Linked DNA regions of Homo sapiens: region 1 is linked to region 2. A link means that fine-mapping ties the variant in region 2 to the expression of a gene that starts in the linked region. Tissue or cell type: tibial artery. Region 2 holds a variant in brackets; the other region holds the start of a gene. All regions are shown on one strand. Distances are between the middles of the regions.

Region 1 (8,000 bases), 290 kb after region 2:
TGATTTTTGCTGAATAAATAAATTCCTATTGAGAAGTTAAAAAAAAACATTATTTCACTATAGTTTTAAATTACTGAAGAAGTGTTCTTATCCAATCACCAAAGGCACAAAAAAGTCAGGTCAATGGCCCTAGATCCAGTTTTCAAATACTACTACAAATGAAATTGTTTCATTCCTAGAAAGTTCTCTCATGAATTTCTGGGTGAGCTGTGTGAGATAAAAGTGGAGATAATCCACTCCATTTTAATACGTTTTACTTATTGTGATTCCTCTATAATTTCTTCTATCTTTTAAAAAGGGTTCAACAGGTGAAATGGGGAACTGCTTTAGCATAACCAATATTGCTGTTAGGAAATCATCAAACTATAACAGCAGTGAGCTGAAACCACTGAAATGTAGGATGCAGCTATGGACATTATTCCAAAAAGCATAATGATTTTCTGAAGCAGAACCACCTAAAAATTTGGGATTCAAAACTGCTAATTGATCTTTCAAATCATTCAGAAGGTCATTTTGACCATTCATTGCATCCCTGAGATGAAAAGACTACTAGGAATAAGCATCACCTCAAAACCTACATAATTATTTCCTTAGCAAAATTTAATAATGAGAGTCAAGACAGGAATTAAAAAAAAAAAAAAAACCCAAGAACATCTGTCAGTCTAAATTTCCTAACCCACTTTTTCCTGTGAGGAAAATATGTCCTCTAAAACTTCGTCATTGGCAGCTCCAAATGTAGGCTGTGAAGGAATGCTTATCTAACTATTGGCTTAGTGCTGTATCTAAGTGGAAAGAAAGCTTAACCAACAGGAACATTCATCCTGTTTGAGGGAAGCAAACATAGCTTAGAAAGTTAGTCAATCCAATCAATAAGAAATATATCTGATACTTTCCATTTTAAAAATTGAAAATTTGCAAAGAATTTTTATTAATATACTGATAATTGTTGCAATATGTAATATTTATACGACTATGGCACATGGAAGTTTACTAAATATGTTTTCACATACAATGCCACATTCGTTTATCACAGTAAACCTATCGGTATTTTTAATACTCAAGTAATAGATGGATCAGCATTGAAGCTCCAATGGGAGCTTCAATGGGAGCTTAAACAAATGTAAGGTCCAAAAGCCTTCATAACATTAGGATCAAACAGTGAAGATTTTCTTTGCTTCAAAAGTTTTGTCCATTACTGGGAATATGTTTTAGAAGTAAAGAGTCCTAACCCTAGCGTGATGAGCTACAGTCATAATAATAGTGTACATGTACAGCACATTACAAATTACACATTACAATGTTCTTTTGACAAGCACTTTCTCATTGTGATGTGGATATTCACCAATCTAGTAAAATACCAGAACATATATCATTATTTTCATTTTAAAGACATAGAGACTGAGGCTTAGAAAACGTTTCATGGCCTGAGCGTGGTCCCGTTGACTCTAAGATTAATTCACCAAAATGTTCTGCTTCTTGAAATCAGATATTAGAGGAACACAGTTATAGTTAAGTTGGAATCACTGATTGTCTTGAAATTAAATGAAAGCTCCTCTTCTACCAGTGTCTAGCTCCACAAAAGGAGGGACTTAAAGAAATGTAGGGCATTTAACTCCTTGGTGGTGTGCTTTTTCTGTGGGAAGAGGGACATTTGTTTCATTCGTTTTGTTCTGCTTTTTTAAAAACATGCTCAAGGTAGACAGCAACTCTTTTGAAAACACAAAGTAAGAATTATTAAATTCTTGGGCAAGCTGAAGAAATCAAATCAGTCCTATATATAACACAGGAAAAACGTTGGAGGGAAGAGCAAATTTTTCCAAAAACAAAATTCACCAAAAAAAAAAAAACCCACTGGAAAATGTAATTCAATCAAAAAATTATATTTTCTTCAATTTGGATTTATGTCTTTGCTTCAGTAGGTAGTGTTAATAGTCTCCAAATGCCAGTGTGTATTCATGAACACTTAGCAAGTTCATGATGTGATACATTCCTTTTTGGATACATCTTTCGTCAAATCCATCTGTCTATGGCAGATATGCATAGTTTTACAGAACCTTATCTGCAAAAGAACTTCCACAGTTAGACAAAAATGGTTTTAGAAAATTGAGAGGAGTGGATAGAAGAAAGATCAACTATTGCTGTTTGGGAGATTTTTTTTGCTTTCCCCACCATGCCTTGCCCCCAGCCCACTGTCCACTGGGCACCTGGCACCTCTAGACTCCATTTCTTAAAGCTCTGTTCTTTCACAAGTAAGAGATATGACTCTGGCATCTCAGGAAGAACTGAAGTGATGGAAGTCCCAGAGGAAAGTACCGATGCAAGACGTAAATACTCCTAGTATACACCCACCAGAATTTCCTTGAGCCTTGGTTTTAAACATCCTCTGAATTATATAGGCAGCTGATTAATGTTTGATAATTAAGCATTTTTATGTGATTCATCTCAATAAGAGCCCAAGCAAGGTAATGTAAACAATGAAGGCATAAAAAGGTGGAAGGAGATGTGAATACTACACCAAGTGGGCCACATGGACCTAAGGAAAAAGAGGAGCTGAGTTGAAGTCAGGAGCTGATTCAGATAAAGCAGCTTCAACTCTACTACTTCTTACTCTTAGATGGGCTCCAGACCACCTTGAGGGATGGGATTATATTTATTTTATAGATGCACTCCTTTCTCCCACTAATACAGTCAGTTAGGAATGTATAGCTAAGAATGAGCCAACCATTACTATTCGTGTCTATGGCTACAGAAACTCAATAAATCAACTCACTATTCTGGGTCAATAAATGAACTCATTATACTGTTTCTTCATGAAGTAAATGTGTTTCTAAAGGAATGTATTAAAATTACATTTTTAAAAATCTATGTATTTTGCATATATTTGATTGATACAGAAAAGGAGTCTACGTTGGCTACTTTTCTTTCTTTCTACAAACTTCATTCATTGGTGTGATCTGAAAGGGGATAATATTTCAGAAAGCAAAAATATTTTTAACAACAAAACTTTGTATTTCCAGTGTGATCTAAACACAAAATTATGCAAAACACAACTAATATTTCTCTCCTACTGGCTAAATCATGCCAGTTGTTTAGGTGCAATCAAAAATAAGCCACTAATGTTATTTTTATAGGAATTGGCAAGTAATTGCCAACTATAGCTATTAAAAGTTTATATTTGCCACAGGAGCCTGTGATTTTAAATACTGTTCAAATGATTTATGCTTGAGAGTTATACATAGCACAAATACATACATTTGTATCTACAGGTCTAAAGAGGAAAAATTAGACAAAAAGCAACTTGAAAAGGAACCCCTTTATTTTTAATGACCTACCTTTGTGCTGTATTGAGAAAAAGTATAAAAATTATTTGGGAGGAAGAAAAATATTTCTAAGCACTAATTTCATAGGCAAAAGCCCTATTATTTTTTATGATAGGCTAGGGGAAATCAATAATGATTTAAAAGCAAACAGTAAACTGCTCACATTTACCAGTCTATACTCAGTATTAATTCTACCCTGCAGTGTATGCTATAGAAGGTAATGAAATGCTGATGTTTTCTGGTTTTCCACTTCAATCTGCTCCAGCTTTATCCTAAACCTTGTCAGCAACAGAAGTTACCCCCCAGCAATCATACAAACCTAATAACGGCTTCCCTGGCTTAATTTGATCTGCTCCAATCACAAATTCCAATCCACATACTTTCTTCTGTTATGGTTGTGTCTGTATGTGTTTAATGTACTTTTTATAAGGCTTTTTTACAACAAGCGCATGGTTTTTCATTCAGCCCTCTACCACATAAACAGAACCACTGAAGAGCATTTTTGTTCATATAAAAATGTTTTAGTTATTCATAGTGTATGTCTTCAATTGGCTGCAGATTACAGTGAACAAAAGTATTGCTGCCATCATTTTACATTTCTCCTGTTACTGTGCCCTATCTGCTGTGTACCCCTGTCCCCAAAGCATTTATTATAATATTTGCTGCTTGCTCTCAGTTTTGGACTGAGATGCTTGGGGGTGGGAAAACTTAAAACTTGCCTGACTCAAGTGCTCTCTAAGCTTTGATCCCAGCATCCTGCTTTAACCTGCTCCTGTTGGACCTCTGCCACTTTACTGACCCCATAAAACAAACAGAGCTAGCAAATGCATCAAACAGCCTCCTTCAAAATGCAGCTTGACTGTGATTCATGGCACAAAGCTGGAATAACCCTGCCAGTTCTTAGAAGCTTTAAGATTCATCGTCTTGAACTTGATACACATAGTATAGCACCTTAAAAACGAATCATCTGCTAGTTCAGTATTTTCTACTTACAATCACTCCCTCCCAGGGCATGTAATTAATTTACTGAGCTTAAAAAAAAAATATCAGGATTACTCACACAGTCTTGAAGATGCAATGTCAGCTATTTAGGACAGAAACATCCAAGGCCGTGTCAGAACTCAATTACGACTACATATGCATTAAGGCAGGAACTGGCAGGCCTCAGGGTACGCCAACTATAGGACTCGTGCTTCTCGTACGCTGGGCTATAATCTATGAAACTGAGCTCCAGAGCCAGCCAATCACTTAGCTCCTCATAACAAGTCTAACTGGCTCTGGAAAGCTGAAAGGGCTGCACTGGAACAACACAGATGAGATATTCTACACATTAATCTACTTATCTGGAATCACTTTGCCTCTAAAGGCCAGAGAAAAATCACAGCTTCCTTGTCGGAGGGGAAAAGGACAGGTGATCTGGGGAAAACGCAGCTACACCTGGAGCAAGGTCTCTTCCCGGCTTGGCAATCTCAGCTGTGCCGGCGCTACGGGACCCGAGCCGTCCCAGAAACCAAAGGGCAGGCACGGCAGCAAACGCCTGAGGTAATTTTCATCTTTCTTTTTATTTTTAGTAGAATAATGCAGACTGAAAGTGATAAGCATAAAGTCGCTGAGGCAACTAGATATGCTTCGATTTTATTTTACATTTTCCTATTCTAATCGTGTGCAGGATCATTTGTTATGAAGTCTGAGGAGGGGGAGAATTAATGTACCTGAAATAAACTTGAAACTAAAACGATCATTTGTGGAGGAAAATACAGGATTTTCCAGAACAGTTTCAGAGCTACCTTTGCAGATGGGTAGGCTTTTCACCCACCCACAGAAAGAAGAGTCAACGGGGCTGAGACAGGACAGGGATGGGTTTCAGGAGCACAATTAAAAGTTTTTCGTATCTTAAAGAAAATATCTATGTTCAGAGAGAAAATTGAGAAGATAAGTTACTGCCCAGTTCCTCTGGTCTTTGACACTTAGACCACATAAGAATGTTCCATGGTAGAAGGGTTGGGACAGAGAATCTTAGGAATCCTAAGAGAGAATCAATACTGCTCCCCTACCCCAGGTTTTTCTTGTTTTCTTTACAATAGTATCCTTATTTCCCATTACATTTTAGTGTTAGTCATACCAATTACTTGTTACACCATACTTCTACATTTGCAGTTATTAAAGGATCTGCAGAAAACATTTTAAAGTCAAAATGATTATAGAGGCAACTAAAATAAGAAAGCAAAAAAATATGTGAAACTGACATACACATAACCAGAACACCACACCCCTTAGATACTTAATGTACTTAACCCAATGACAAATCCTTCCAAATCCTTAGCAAATTGTCTGTTTCTTTAATACATTTTGTAGCAAGTGTAACATTAGCAACGAAGAAAAACTTTGGCAATAAACTTGTACATAACTAAATCAATCCTTATGCTTTCATAGTGACGATAGAATATACATAATATTTTATTTGTTTTGTTGGACTTATAAAATCCTAAGGCAAGAAGCTGAGAAGAAAATTTTGCTTTATTTAGTGGTGACATATAAACAGTAACAGAAGAGACATTTATGCACTTTTTTTGGCTGTAGATAATTGACTGAATTCAACTTGAGATTTGACACCAGAAAGAAAAACGTTGCAATAGACAGAAAACAGAAAAAGTAATCCATTGGCAATTTCCCCCCAGGGTTTGTTCTTTGAATTGTCCAATCTGTGACTAGCCAGGGAAGAATATTTCTGCTCTGTTTAAATAGTTTTTATTTAATTAAACCTTTGTTTATTTGACAGTGCTGCTGCCTTCGGTGACTATATGAGAATGGAAACTTCTAAGGAAGCCAGGTTGTTAGAATTGTTACCCCCTTTACTCAGAGATAACATAGATTATCCAGGCTGAGATGGAAAACAAGCCCTTTATTGAATTTTCAACACAGACTCCCTGCTTCTCATCTCCTTAATAAAATTTCATTAAAATCCCCTTGAACTCCCATGTTCAAATCTCCATTTGTTGACAGACAAAGCCAACAATACTCTAAACTGAGGCCTGCAAGTCATTTCATTTGTATTTTTGTCCAGAAATTTCCCATAGGAAGACTTCACCTCCTACAACTCCGAAGAAAACCCTTACTGTCCAAGACCGTCACCAGCAACCATCCGCAGTCATTCAAGTGGAAGCTTTCACAGCTTTTGTACATTCTCTGTGTCAATATACAACTGAGTTACAGACTGTCCCCTGGCTCCCTGACCCTTACAAACACTAAAAGTTTTGTTTGACTCAACTTCAAGCTGCTCATCTGTTAGTAAGTGATGTTCACTCCAGAACACATTCATGATGAGAACTTTCTAAAAGACCAGCACTGCTCTTCCCCTCCTATAATCATAATAATCATGATAACCTGAAACATGTTACTGGGACTCGACATTTTTCTGGGGATTGAAATCTTTAGTCCTTGGAGCTGTCACATAGCAGGGGCAACCTCACACTGAAACAAAGGAAGTGATGTCCCATTATTATCCACCCTGAGCCACCATAATATGCTGTTTACATTTATTTTCTTCAGCCTGTGCAAAACAAAGCAATGGAAAAGGAAACTAAAAAATATACATACTAGTACCATTATCTTCTTTTGCCTAAAATTACTAATGCACCACGTCAGTCTGCTTCCTTCAGGCATCATTCTCAATTCATCAGGACTTGTATTAGCAGGTTCTGGCTAGAGAGACTATCTCCTGTCATCACGATCAATTAATGTTTTCTGGTGATCACATCAGGCCCTATCTAAGAAGCTCATGGTATACAAGGGTCACCCAAATAGCTGAGTGCAGTCCTTGCTCATATTTCCTTCATCTTAACCCCGCAAACAAGAATTAAGATGATCCCAATAAAAGAAAAATTGCTCAGGAAACTGAACCTTTTTCTGAACCAAGCACTGTCAGCAAATCTCAGGTATTAGAGCAACTATGGTTGATTGAAAAGTGTCTCAAAATCTGGGCCAAGAATGATTGCTAGGTCCATAAGCTAATTTGTCTGGCCTTGCCATTTACGTAAGCCAAAGAAAGTCACTCATGAGTAAACTATAGAAAACGTTCAGACCCATCCTGTTAGTATGTCAAATCAACTAAGACTGGCAGGGTATTAACTCCATTCCAGGTGACATGGATAAAGAGCCCCATTATTTTCACAGTGCCAGCCTCTACCTAAGGAAACCCTAGACCTTGGAACCAGTTTCCTGGTAGGGAACTGCTGACAGTTTCAATGCTGACAGTTGGAGCCAATGCCTCATAGTGTAAACTGAAAGAAAAATAGTTGCTTTTTAAAATGTCAGCAAGAAGGCCTGCCTCATCTTAACAAAGCAAAAAAAAATGCTTTAATTCAAATTAAAAATCATGATACTAGAGATGGGAGTCTGTGGTCACTATAAAGATAAAGTTCATGTTCTTGGTTCAGATAACAAAACACTTTATCTGGATAAATGGACCTCAAAATTTGCTCTTGGCACATGGGGGAAATTTTTTGTTGTATTTTGTTGTTGTTGTTGTTCTTGTTGTTATTGTTTAAATTAATCTTCCTAAGGCCATGAATATGAAATCATATTAATAATGCATGTGACAAAATTCTAAAATATATTACACTTAAAATTAGCATAAACCATCAACTTTTAGTACTCATATATTGCAGTCAAAACTCTTCT
Region 2 (8,268 bases):
TGCAGTGAGCCGAGATTGCGCCACTGCACTCCAGCCTGGGCGACAGCGAGACTCCGTCTCAAAAAAAAAAAAAAAAAAAAAAAGAAAGAAAAAGAAAAAAAGAAAAGAAAAAGCTGTCACAATTTTCAAGAAAAATATTTTTAAAATAGTAAGTTAACAATAGGGCTCTTTACCTAGGTTTAGTTTCAACCAGCTTTGTACCCTTTCAACTATTTGAGCCTCTTAATGTCTCTCTGAACATCCCATCAAAAATTATGCCTCAGCTTCCTTCCTCACCCAGCTTACTCTCCCTTACCTCCTTTCCCGCTGTCTGAGAGGATGAGTGAGGTGTTTCTCCTCCTATGAGGAGTCCTGTCTTCTACCTATGCCTGTCTTTCCTCCTCCATCTGCTCTAGTTCTAACTGGTTCTCTCCCCTCAAGATCTAAATACTCTCTTGAGTCTCTCCTCTTGTAAAAAGTAAATTATCCTTATAACCCTATGTTCTCCCTCCTCAAGATATCATTCTCTTTCTCTTCAAAATCAAGCTATTTGAAAAAAAATGTCTGTTATCTTTCTTTACCTCCTTATTCCCACTGTCTACCCCTCAACCCAATGCAAGCAAGTTTTACTCCTTCCACACTTAAACTACTTTCTCTAAAGATCCTAGACCTCCATATCACAAAATCTAACAAACTTTTCACAAATTATCTGACTAGAACTCTCTGCTATCACATTGTTTTGCCTTCTAGAAAATCCCTCTTCCTCTGTCTTCTGCTGGTTCTCCAACTGACTGCTCAACTTCTTGCTACTTCACGGGGTCTTCTTATTTTGTCTACATCTAAAATATGAGTGATACCATTGATATTATTTTTATCAGCATTTCCCAAACATGACTGCATATCAAAATTAGCTAGGGAATGCCATAAAATGCAGATGGCTGACTCTCCACCAATGAATCAGAACTTTGAGGACAGGTACTCAGGAATCTACTTTTGACCAATACCCCAGATAATAATCATGAAGGGTGAAGAGCACCACCACTTTTGATTGGCACTTGGGAGCCTCTGTTCTAGATTATATTTCTTGATAATCCACTAGTTTTCATTGTTTTAGCTGCCATGTGTATACTTTAACCCGCCACATACATATCTCATACACTAAGAGGGGTCTACCACTACCACAGTCTTCCAGAGTTTTATCTACACAAATTCAGGCACTTTCTAATGTTCTTCTTGTCACCAATACTGCCTACTTCAAGTCCACCTTAAAATCTATCAATAGCTGCCTATCCCCTACAGCATAAAGTCCAAATAAATCTCCTTTACATGGTAAGTAGGAGTCCCCCTGTCTGCTGTTTGCAGTATCATCCCTTGACCTCCCACACAGCATTGTTTCACTCACTTGCTATAGGGAACCACTTGTAATTCTTTGCATACGCCATACGGTTTCTCACCTCCCTGTCCTCTGTCTTGGACTTTTTCCCCTCTTCCTTTACCCCATAGCCATGCTCTTCTTCCTTTGTTTGGGAATGTCTTGCTTCAAGACTCAACTCAGGTGTCATCTCCTCCTGGAAGAGTTTCCTGATTCTCCCAATATCCCAGCCCCATTCCCACTGCCAGCCTGACCTAACATCCCTTTTTACTCCCTCCATAATGCCTCCTGAATGCCTCCCACAGTATATTTGTCAAATTACATCAAAATGATCTGTTTAATTGTACGTCACTGCCAACCTTGCCCTGGACTCTAAGTCCCTTGAGGTTAGAAAACATTTCATGTTTATATATACAATTACAACATAAAATATGCTTAGTAAATGTTTACTGATTTCTGCTGAATTGAACAGAGAATTAAGAGAAGAAAAGCACATTTTGTCTCCAGACTGAAAAGAATCAAATCATTTCCTTTGTAGTTTATGTCCATATAAAACCATCATTCTATTCCCTTCTCTTCCTCCAAAATGATAACAGCAATCTATTTTACTAATTCATTCACCAGACATTTACTGGACACTTGTGGTATGCAATGAACTGTGCTCTAGGGTCCAGGGATGCAGAGATAAATACGATAAAAATCTCTCTCCACGTGGAACTCTCATTCTAGTGGGGGACAGAGACAAATAACACAATACACTAAGTGCTCTGACAGAATCTCAGAATAGCTGGTGTGGGACCCCCGAGGAGGCAGTAAATGATTCATACACCTAATGGCTTCAAAGCCTGTTCCGAGTTATTCTGCTCTTGTGAACACTTCTCTTTAAGTTATTCAAATGCCATTTCATATACTGATGTTTTTCCCCACGTAGAGGGAAAGGAACATGAAAGTAGACATTGACGGTTCTTTTCATCTCCTTTGTGCATCTAGTCAGAACTTTGTCCCTGTAGAAAAGGCATCTGTAGAATTCCACACCTATAAAGTATGCTGTAAATGACCATTGAATGAATAATATGCAGGCGGTCACACTTACATAGAGAACACAAGCCACTTTTTATTTCAGCACAAATTTATTACAAAATAAATGACATTTTTGGAAATACAAGCATATCATTTGGCTCCCCAAATAGCCTAATTCTTCACTCCCAAGGGTATGGAAATGCCAGAGTACCCACTCTTTCAACGCTCACCTTGACCAGTATTTCAAAATGGCACAGTTCAGTCATTGAGCTATAAATTAATTACTTTTCTCCCAGGATTCCATTTCCTCCCACCTAAAATAATTTCAGCTCTCTAAAACACAACTCTCCACCCTAATTAAAAGTCCAGGGACCTTCTCATTAATATTGCATAAATGTAGGGTCTGTTGCTTGATAATACTTTGCTTTGGTGTTAGCCTCCTGCAGCAGAGAAGAAAGTTACAACAAAAGCTTCCTTTTAGCAACTTTCCTAGCCATACACCCTCCCACTGCCTCATTATGGTGCCCTTCCTGCCTGGGCAGTGGGAGGTGTCTAGAGCAGTTTCGTCCTGTGAATCATAGGACAGCATGGTGCGTAGTTTGCTGGCCTGAGGCCCAATATGGAATGAGCCTCTGAGATGTGTCATCATCAGCTTGACTATAACAGATCCATTGAGAGCCTCAGGATAAAATTCCCTGAGTCATCATGAGGAAAATAAAATGATAGCAAGATGATCCCCATAAAATCTCTGGTGCAAGCTGCTTACTAGCTACAAAGAAAAGTGGAGTTCATCAAGGCACTGAGCCTTTTATTCTTTTTAATGTTTTTTTGTCCCATATTAAAGTAAAATCTGCTGTCTGAATACTTGTAAATTTGAGAAGTATTAGAAATGGCATTTCACTGAGGGTTGTAGAATGTATGTAGAGACTGCTGTCTACAAATCATTAATTACAAATCATAGTCTGTACTTTGTATCATGAGACCAACTAGGTTCTAAAACATGAACCATTCTGCCTCTCTGGCAAAAACAAGATAGGCAGATAGATAGATAGATAGATAGATAGATAGATAGATAGATAGATAGATAGATAGACAGTTAGATAGATAGATAGATAGATAGATAGATAGATAGATAGATAGATAGATTAGATAGGAATAGGTAGCTGAAAGAGAGAAGGAAAGGTGAGAGTGAGGAATAGTGAGAAATTGAGAAAGACAATCCATGTTATAGATCCTGCATTATATTATGTATAGCTTTCTCAATCTGAGCTATAGAACCAAAATTATTATCTCTGGGTAATTATGAGCCAGATACCTTCAGAAGTTCCTTTTTAAAATCAACATACCCTTTGGTTCTTTAGTTGCTTTTATTTAGTCAATCAGCCGTGAATTCTAATTTTTATTTTCCCACAAAATCTACTGTGAATAGCCTCCTTAAGAAAAATACAAGTGAATTATTTTAAGACCTAATAATACTCTTGGTTTAGATTATTTGGGACACAATGAGAATTTAAATAAAATAAACCAGAGTTAAAGTAAAGATCAAAGAGACAAAAGGGAATTGGTAGAGCATCATGCAGATCTTACTTGAGGTAGGTACATAAAAGTTGTTCTAATGCGGCTTCAGTAGAACAACTTTTATCCTAGCACCAAGTAAGTCAGGAAGTACCCTCAAGCTATCATTTCTCCCTAATTAACAAGTGCTACCCAAGGAGTCATTGCCGGCAGACTGTACAAACAGAAGAAAAGCAAGGCATAAAATGAAGAAACTCAATGTTAATTAAAAGAAACATAAACAAGGAAAATAACAGAGCCAAGAAACCAAAGACTATGAGTAGAAACCAAAACCTCTCAATCCTCTGTCTCTTAGGAAGCAACAGCCCGTTAGCGCCCTTGCAAGGGAATGAGCCCACTGTGGTGGAGTCATTAACACCCACAAATTGAAAACTGTACATGCCCCTTAGTTTGGAGCAAATTTCTAACGAATGATAAAGAGCAGTTGGCTTTTTTACATTAAAAATAAAATAACAGCAGAAAAAAAAGTGGGCAAAGAATTTGGATTTTTTTTTTTTTTGCTTTTCAAGAGTTTTACTGTTTTACCAATTTATTATAGACATTAAAAATAACAAGCAACAAAATCAAGATCTAGTACAGCATAAATTATAATATTTTTCTGCCATTAGAGAATCATTTTCAATATACTCTTTTTCTTTCATATTCAGTGTATATGTGGTAGATAA[A/G]ATAAACTCCTTCAATGTAGTGCCTTGTTTTAATTCCTTTGTTCTTAAGGAGATATTTTTTTCTCACTCCATTATAAAACAAGAACTCTAAGATATCCCCTAAACAAAAGTAATTTATGTAAGAGATGTTGATTCGGAGAGATGAAGAGACAAAACTAATCAGTGGAATATTAGGTTTTGGAATCAGTCATATTCCATATTCCAAAGAATTTGGAGTCAAATTCTGTTTTGGCCATTTTCTAATTTTATGGCCATGAGAAACTACTTAACCCTTTTGCATGTCAATGTCAGGATCAAGATAAATGTAGATACTGAAACTCACATTTCAAGGCTACTACTGTGTAAACTAAATGATGAACTTACATGTCAGCGTATATAACCACTGTACCTAACTCTAAGAAGGCACTCCTTAAATGTAAGCTTTTTATTACTTTGTCCCCTGATATGTCTTTAACACCAAGAGCCTCAGCGAGCTCTAAGAATCAAGGTAAATTACAGTTAGAATTAATCCTTCGAAATGTAGGATAGGGGAGCTCAAAATTTATTGTATAACCTGGTGGCATAGTGAGAAGCCTTGAATTTGGCTTATCCTTCTCATCTTAGAGTAAGCAAGCATTGGGTTTTTTAGGAGATCTGGATTTTACTAACCCTGCAAAAATGTTTCATTAAAAATGCACTCTTCCCAGGATTGTTAGTCTGCTGTTACACTGCCACAAAATGAGAGAAGCCTGTACTAATTCTAGAGACACTCAATTATAGTACAAGATTTAACCTTCAGTTTCTGTGTCCAAGCCTAGGCTTTTCCACAGCCATCAGTGAGGTCAAATGAACATTTCAAACCTTATACTCAGAGATTTGAAATCCTTTTCATTTTGATGCTTCCTTCTTCAAGGACTCATTCAATGAGCCTCAAAATGAACCCATCACTTTTCCAGCAAGATGTGAATTGTGACACCAACTCTTAACTGCTAGGACAAAGCAGATACCAAGCTTCATAGCAAATTCAAAGGCTCTGAATATAGAGAAAGAACAAGTGGAGGACCTGACACACAGAAGAAAATTCACCTCAGTTCACCAAGATCTCCTGATTATCCAAATAGCTGTTCAGAGCTTGGTATCTGTAACTGGAGCCTGTGCTGAATCATTGCCATTTGTGTGGCACCCATCTGGCACCTGGAATTAGATTTTGCTCTCTCTTCATTCAAAATGGTGATAAGGGATGAATGAGGGATTGCACAACAGCAAAATCTCATAAATATTATTGTGCTAATAGATGAATTTCTTAGTGAAAATGGAAAATGGCAATTTCTTTTCTAAGGATCGGCTACGCTTTAATCATCTCAGGGCTTATTAGTTCAATTTTTCAGAAGGACAATGATGCTTGAGAAGCTAGAATTTTCTCTTTAAAAATCTCTTTAATTCACTAAAGAAGTAATATAAGCGAAAGCATATAAATGAAAAAGTAAAACCAAATTTAATATCTGAAGTAGAAGTAGCTGAATGAAAGAAACTTAGTATTAAAATGGTCTTTCAGTTTCTAACTCATCCAAACTCTGCTAAGATGAAGATGATGTCACAACATATCATACCATACCAAGATATTGTTACAGATTATCTCATTCATAAATATTACTAAGGAAAGAGACCCCATATTCCCAGCAAGAGTTGGGTGCCAACCTAGTTGGCAAAAACAGATGTAATTCCTATTCTTTGCTTATGGCAAGAGAACAGAATTAGAGTATTAAACCAGCTTCAGATACTTCAAAGTGGAGGCAGGAGAGACAGACACCAAATCATCCCAAGAGCACTCAATTGGAAAATGGCACATGAACCAAAGTCCACTTCACTCCTAACACTATGAGAACAATCATAATTTTATATTATAATTACAAACGCTTATGGGGCATTTGCTATGTACCAGGAAATGTTCTAATCACTTAAAATATATTAACTAATTCAATTCCCACAAAATTCTGTAAAATAGTTGTCATTTTAATATCCAATTTGCAGATGAAGAAATCAAGGTAGAGAAAGCTGAAATAATCATCACAAGATTACATGGCTAGTAAGTATAAATCCAGGATATGTATGTTTTCTCCTGCACCCAGAAGTTATTTTATGTTTTAGGGAAGACATCAGAAGTCATTGAAGAGGAGAAAAACAGTTCTGATATATAGCTCAACTTTCAATTATTTACATACTGACCCAAAAGAAACTATTCTAATCCCGAAATGAATTAAAGTTTGGGTGTTTTTCCCCACCTCATTAATGGGAACAATGGCTCTACAGCTAGAATCTAGAGCTAGAAAATTTGCTATAAGAAATAAAAGCCACATTCTTTAACCATAGCTGAATTTCAGTCAGTACATTTGACTCTACTGTAGATGACAGTCAATGCAAGTATGCCAGACTTCCAGTATAAGATAGAAATTTCAGTCCATTTATTTCACTCTCCTTGCTCCCAAATTCACTTAGAAGCAAGAAACAATAGAAAACTCATGGAGAAATGCCATCAATTTAGGGAATTTCTGTAAGACAGTACACAAGATCCATATTATTCATGAGTTTACACACTCTGGAATGTGAGAAGAGTTTAATAGTAAGAAACCTATTAATATAACTCATTAAAGTAATAGACCAAGGGAAAAGAAAAACACATAATCCTTTCTAAGAATGTCTAAAATGCATGTGAAAACACTTAACACTGAATCCTGATTTTTAAGATTTAATAAAACGGGACCAAAAGTCATATCTTTCTCAAATAGCCAATGTCTTGCTTAGTGATCAAAGATGGAAGACATTCTCATTAAAGCCGGGAGCAGCAGAAAAATACCCACTACCACCACCCTCAGTTGCCAATGTGTTTAAAGTGCTAGCTAATAAATCCCATAAAGGAGAATCATAAATATTGAAAATGATGAGGCAAGTCTATCACTATAGGAAGACCACAGGATTCTCTACTTGAAAAACCTCCCAAAAAGAAAGCAAAAAAAAAAAAAAAGAAAGAAATAGAGTTTTTTTTTTTAAGTTAAGTAACTGGGTTGATTACAAATCAAGGTTTTCCTATATACCAACAATTTGAAATATAATTGCTACACACACACACACAACTTAAAAACTAGGCATGAAGAAGCTTTCTTAGGTTTTGTATGCTTGTTTGTTTAGAAAGGTAGAGGGACTATATAAAGAAATGAACTACAAAACTTCATTGAAGTACATAAAAGGAGACTTTTTTTAAAAAACATGTTTCTAAAGAGGAAAGCATGTGCAATTCCAATTACATGCAGTTCCGATCTGAATTATTTACCTAATTATTTATATAAAGTTTTGTTATCGTCACTTTCACACATACATGCAAGCAGAGTAAATAGGATCATGAGTCCCACATTCCCATCACACAGCTACAACAATATCAACATTTTTCCAAACTTGCTTTATTTACCCCCAATTGCAATTCCCCCTTGTCTCCCATTGCTTGTGTATTTTAAGACCTCATATAAATAAATGTAAATATATCCAGAACATTTCTGAAAGACAATATTAACAAAGGAGTAATTTCTGTAATAATTATAATAATTGATACTGGCACCAGACTAGAAGAGAATCCAATAGAACTGAACAGAAACACCAAAGAGATACAACTATACATAAGAATTT

Which allele goes with the higher level. Positions count from the first base shown, and alleles are read on the strand shown. Sizes are in standard deviations (SD) of each study's normalised expression.
In carriers of allele G in region 2, the expression in tibial artery of the gene that starts at base 4,152 in region 1 tends to be higher than with A alone (large effect, 1.5 SD a copy in GTEx).

Evidence for each region. PIP is the estimated chance that this variant, and not a neighbour inherited with it, causes the effect.
Region 1: it holds the start of PART1, and the variant in region 2 is fine-mapped to the expression of PART1 in tibial artery (GTEx, PIP above 0.99). The same link has a PIP of 0.9 or more in sun-exposed skin.

What each region holds. Positions count from the first base shown.
Region 1 is chr5:60,483,562-60,491,561 of GRCh38, forward strand. It overlaps PART1 (prostate androgen-regulated transcript 1), which reads left to right and starts at 4,152. Exons shown (of 4, transcript NR_024617.1): 1 at 4,152-4,862. It also overlaps a transcript of PDE4D not described here.
Region 2 is chr5:60,193,610-60,201,877 of GRCh38, forward strand. It overlaps a transcript of PDE4D not described here. Among named protein-coding and RNA genes, the nearest start is that of PART1, 290 kb to the right of the region's middle. The variant A/G (reference allele first, on the strand shown) is at 4,612.